Linked DNA regions of Homo sapiens: region 1 is linked to region 2. Evidence: fine-mapped expression QTL. A gene starts in region 2. The other region holds a variant in brackets. All regions are shown on one strand. Distances are from middle to middle.

What was found.
Region 1: its variant is fine-mapped to the expression of ZG16B in whole blood (INTERVAL, PIP 0.96).

Annotation. Positions count from the first base shown.
Region 1 is chr16:2,860,013-2,862,916 of GRCh38, forward strand. No RefSeq gene overlaps it. Among named protein-coding and RNA genes, the nearest start is that of PRSS22, 3.3 kb to the left of the region's middle. The variant G/A (reference allele first, on the strand shown) is at 1,345.
Region 2 is chr16:2,829,071-2,831,974 of GRCh38, forward strand. It overlaps ZG16B (zymogen granule protein 16B), which reads left to right and starts at 1,233. Exons shown (of 4, transcript NM_145252.3): 1 at 1,233-1,258; 2 at 1,345-1,423; 3 at 1,624-1,726; 4 at 2,726-2,904. The coding sequence starts at 1,372.

The DNA of each region.
Region 1 (2,904 bases), 31 kb after region 2:
TTCTCTGTCCCAGGACTCAGAGGGGGTTTGGGGGAACTGCAGGAAAAGGCCACGCAGAGTGGCCAAGGAGGGGCAGTGTCTCTGAGCAGCAGCAGCACTGCAGCAGAAATTTCTGCTGGGCTCCCCCAACCCTACTCACTGTCCCCCGCTCAGCTCTGCACCCAGGGCGTCCAGGGCCCTCCTGCGCCCCACCCCACTGCCTTCTGGAATAAGGTGGGTGGCCTCTCCAGCTCACCCAGCAAACATATATTGAGTACCTGCTGTATGTCAGGCCCTGGTGGGCACCAGGACACATGTGATGAATAAGACGCAGGTCCTGTGCTCAGGAAGCACATGACCTCCTAGGGGTGGGAGGCAGATGACGGATGACAGGGAGGTGTCCGGGAGGTGGGCACAGAACCATGGGACCAGGCGGTGGCTTGGACCCTAGAGGGCCACTGTGAAGCTGGGTGCTGGGGAAACAGTGTGGGCAGGGGGGCTCCCTGTGGACCCCCAGGATCATATTCAGTGCCTGCTGCACCCTGGGGCTCAGCGAGTGTTTGTTGAATGTATAAATGAGTGTGGAAGAAGCAAGTCTGCAAGTGGCTGGGGACCGACCACTCCAGCCTCCCTCTCTGCCTCCCGCCCAGGTTTCCTCTCCATTCCAGCTTTTCTGCCTTTCTGAAGAGCCAGCTCACTGCCCTGGATACCCAAGGGTAGCCATGGGCCCTGCCCAAGATGCCGCTATCCCTGAGACAGGGTGGCCAGGAAGAGAGCCCCGAGGAGAAGGACCTGGTAGGAGCAGGGGGAAGCCCTGAGGAGCTGGGTGAAGATTTCCTGGCACAAGTCCTGGGGAAGGGCCCCAGACAGCAGTTCCTCAATTCCCAGGGTATAGAGGGTGGAGTCTCTGAAAGGCCACGGGGTGGAGACCCTGGCATGATTCAACATTCACTCAACAAAATATTTATTGAGCGCCTGCCAATGCTAGACCCACATGCTGGCCAGCATCCCTGCCTGTGCAAGCTCTGGATGAGCTGTGTGCCCCTGCCACCCACACCCCCACTCCCTGCCAGCCTGGCCTCAGGGCCTCTGATCCATGTGCACTGGAGTGGTGATGACTGACAGGGCCACTGGGGCATTTCCATGTTAACAGCAGCTGCCACTGGCAAAAGAAGTGACTCGCCAATGGTGGCATCTCAGATGTGGGCCCAGGAGTCTGGGGAGCTACTTTGAACAGGGCTATCCATTCATTGTCCCACCAAAGGCTATGGAGCCCACCCACCATGTGCTGGAGTAGTCAAGGGAAATAAGACACTCTCCTTGTCCTTGTTAACTCAATCAACAAGCATTTGCAGAGCACCGCCT[G/A]TATGCCGGCGCTGTCCGAAGTGCTGAAGATACAGCAATGAGCAAACCAAAAGCCATGGACATCGGATGAAACAGAGAATTGTAAACAATAAGTACATCATTTAGCTCTATGGAAAACAGGATAGAGATTTCTCAAAGAACTAAAACTAGAACTACCATTCAACCAGCAATCCCACCACTGGGCATCCACCCAAAGGAAAAGAAGTCATTTAATCAAAGAGACACCTGCACTCGTGTGTTCATCGCAGCAACACTGTTCACAACAGCAAAGCCATGAAATCAACCTAAGTGTCCATCAACAGATGATGGATAAAGAAAATGTGGTGAATATATACACAGTGGGATACTACGAAGCCATAAAAAAGAACACAAAACCATGTCTTTTGCAGCAATGTGGATGGAACTGGAGGCCATTATCTTAAGCGGAACAAGTCAAACACAGAAAGACAAAGATTGCATGTTCTTATTTATTTATTTACTGAGATGGAGTCTCACTGTGTCACCAGGCTGGAGTGCAGCGGTGCAATCTTGGCTCACTGCAGCCTCCACCTCCCGAGTTCAAGCAATTCTCCTGCCTCAGCCTCCCAAGCAATTCTCCTGCCTCAGCCTCCCACATAGCTGGAACTACAGGCACGTGCCACCACACCCAGCTAATTTTTGTATTTTTAGTAGAGGCAGGGTTTCAGCATGTTTGTCAGGATGGTCTCAATCTTTTTACCTCATGATCTGCCAGACTTGGCCTCCCAAAAGGCTGGGATTACAGGCATGAGCCAGTGTGCCCAGCCTTTTTTTTTTTTTTTTTTTTTTTTTGAGGCAGAGTCTTGCTCTGTTGCCCAGGCTGGAGTGCAGTGGCGCAATCTGGGCTCACTGCAACCTCTGCCTCCCGGGTTCAAGTGATTCTCCTGCCTCTGCCTCCTGAGTAGCTGCAATTACATGTGCACACCACCATGCCCAGCTATTTTTTATATTTTTAGTAGAGACGGGGTTTCACCATATTGGTCAGGCTCGTCTCGAACTCCTGACCTCAGGTGATCTACCTGCCTTAGCCTCTTAAGCATGTTCTCATGTATAAGTGGGAGCAAAGCAGCCGGACGCAGTGGCTCACGCCTGTAATCCCAGCACTTTGGGAGGCCAAGGCGGGCAGATCACGAGGTCAGGAGGAGCTAGAGACCATCCTGGCTAACATGGTGAAACCCTGTCTCTACTAAAAATACAAAAAATTAGCCGGGTGTGGTGGCGGGCGCCTGTAGTCCCAGCTACTTTGGAGGCTGAGGCAAAAGAATGGCGTGAACCTGGTAGGCGGAGCTTGCAGTGAGCTGAGATCGTGCCACTGCACTCCAGCCTGGGCGACAGAGCGAGACTCCATCTCAAAAAAAATAAAATAAAATAAGTGGGAGCAAAGCAATGTGCACCTGTGGCCACAGAGTGGAATAACAGACATTGGAGACTGGGAGGGTGGGAGGGAGGGAGGGGGCAAAGGAGAAGAAATTTGCTATTGGATCCAGTGTTCACGATTTGGGTGATAGGCACTAAAAGCCCAGACTTCACCACCACACAGTA
Region 2 (2,904 bases):
AGCCCCGCTACGTCAGGAAGCCCGGCTGGACCCACGTCTGGCTCCAGGGTCCTGTGTTGGTGATCACAGCCCTGTGGCTGTTCCCAGCGGTCACAGGCCCTGAGGAGCTTCAGTCCCTGGAACACACACAAGAGGTGTCCTGAGGACACGCATGGAACTGCGCTTGAGCTGCAATCTGTCCCCTAGTTCCCGCCTCGCTTGGGCATCTGACGGCCTTTATCTCTTCTCCCCTGATCCTTATCCGACACCCCAACTCTTCTGCAGACTCCAGTTCCTTCCCAGTGCCCTGGGTCCTTCAGGGTCCTTGGGATGAGACATCTCCGAACACGAGCTTTTCTCAGCTGGCGTCTGAGGGTGATGGCGTTCTGCCCACAGGCATCCGCCTGCACAGGCCTCCCTGACAAGAGGGGCTGAGGGGGAAAGGAGTGAGACAGAAAACCAGCAGGGCCCCGGGGACCGAGCCCTGGAGAAGCGCCAGTTCCCGCCCAGATGAGGGCCGACACCTCGGAAGGACCGGCCTGGGGGGTCGCCCTCCCCAGGCCCTCTGCCTCCCATCGTGGCATGGACTGCACCTTTGGTGTCCTTCCCTCCCATGGCCTCTGAGTCCCTGAACACTGGCTCATACCTGCTCCACCCAGATACAGCACAGAGGAGAGACCCGGGCAGCCTCTAAGGGCAGTGCCTTGAGGGCCAGTGCCTGGTGCACCTGCCGCACAGGGCACAGGACACAAAGGGCTGGGTGATCCATTCAGGCTCTCTCAGGGCCCGCGTCGAGCTCGGCCTGGGTCCCAGGAAGGCTGCCAGGCACCAGGTGCTGCCTGAGTCCGAAGGAGGCCCTGACTCCAGGTCGCCCACGGCAGGAGTGGGCCCCACGGAGCTTCTGTGGACCCTTGACCCGCCACCCTCAGGTGGAAGCCATCAGGCTGCGCTGGATAAGCCAGCCTCTCCCCACCTCTGCCATTCAAGTCGGTGCCAGTGCTGACTGGAGAGATCCCAGAGATAACTGTGAAATGCCTGTCACTGTTCTCAGCTTCGTTTATGTAGGCTGCAGAGCCAAGACAGCAAATACTGCACATCCGGGAGCCTCCCCAAGGCCGGCCCTGGGCCTTCCCCCAGGAAGAGCCCCACGGCCAGCTCCTTCCTGTTCCCCTGGCGGCCCCTCGCTTCTTCCTTCTGGATGGGGGCCCAGGGGGCCCAGGAGAGTATAAAGGCGATGTGGAGGGTGCCCGGCACAACCAGACGCCCAGTCACAGGCGAGGTAAGGTGCTTGGCTCCATGGGTGGGGCCCGGCAAGGTCACACTGGCCCTTGCTTTGGAGTCAGGAGGCCTCTCTTCTTCCCACAGAGCCCTGGGATGCACCGGCCAGAGGCCATGCTGCTGCTGCTCACGCTTGCCCTCCTGGGGGGCCCCACCTGGGCAGGGAGTAAGTCAGTGGGGTCTGCCCTCAATCTCCCCTGCCTCCCTCCAGGAGAGCCAGGGACTCACCCGGCCCTTGTCCCAGACTAACTCTGGTCACAGAACCATCCTGTCTGCCTGGAGGGGTGGGGTCCCCTGTTCTGGCAGAGGTCACCCCCATATCACCGCATGGGGATTTTCTTCCCTTTGGGTCTCTCTTTTCTTCAGAGATGTATGGCCCTGGAGGAGGCAAGTATTTCAGCACCACTGAAGACTACGACCATGAAATCACAGGGCTGCGGGTGTCTGTAGGTCTTCTCCTGGTGAAAAGGTGAGTAGGGCTATGGTCATGGGCCCAGCGCCATGTCCCCTCCCATCCCACAGTTTCAGGAACTCAGGGCAGGGGGTAAGCACCCGTGGCCACTTTTGCCACACATGCCTGGCTACTGTCGATGCTTCCTGGCTCCCGCTGATGCTTCCTGGCTGGAGCGGAGACGGTCAGACCGTCCTCCCTACCTTCTCCCTTCAACCCAAGCTCAACTCAACCAAAAATGGCCCCTCTGTCCCCATGCCTGATAGGAAAGTCAGGGGAAAGTCTGTCCGATTACTGTCAAAGAAGACAGGAGGTAAGGGTCAGAGTGGACCACTGACTGAATATGAGTCGCAGAAGTGTTAGAGGCAGAAGTCCAGGGCCATTTCCTTAATATCGAAGTGTCTCTGCTGGAGGTCTGGGATGGATTTTTGCCCTGCATTTAGAAGTTCTGGGGTCCTGGGAGAGGGGAGAGAAGCCCAATAGCAGAGGAGACAGAGTGTGGGCGGGGCGAGCCGGAGGGGTGCATCCTGGGAGAGCACCAGGGTGAGGGAGGGGTGAAGATGAGCCCCGTCAGGGAAGCGCTGGCGAGTGTGGGAAGTCACCTGCCCCTCGGCCTGTGAGCTGCTCTGCTTGGAGTGACTAAGGCTCGGGAGGTCCAGGCTCGGCCAGAGGCAGCTCATATGTGGGCCACAGTGACGGCAGCTGGTGCCTTCTGGGTCACGGAGACCTGGCGCTGCACGCAGCTCTCCTCACCAGGATCTCAGTGACTCCTCCCAAAAGTCACACCCACTTTGCAGACGGGGAAACTGAGTCCGGAGAGGCTGGGTAACGAGCTCAAGATCACAGGGCCCAAAAGTGGTAGAATCAGGGTTGGTGACCAGTGAGTCTGTGTCAGGGACCCAAAGTCTGATGGTGCTGGACTCTCTGCATCCCGGGAAGGAGGATGGGGGCGCTGAGGACCCGGGATGTGCTGGGCCATCCCAGATCTGGACGTCCAAAGCTTTGCCTCTCTCCCAGTGTCCAGGTGAAACTTGGAGACTCCTGGGACGTGAAACTGGGAGCCTTAGGTGGGAATACCCAGGAAGTCACCCTGCAGCCAGGCGAATACATCACAAAAGTCTTTGTCGCCTTCCAAGCTTTCCTCCGGGGTATGGTCATGTACACCAGCAAGGACCGCTATTTCTATTTTGGGAAGC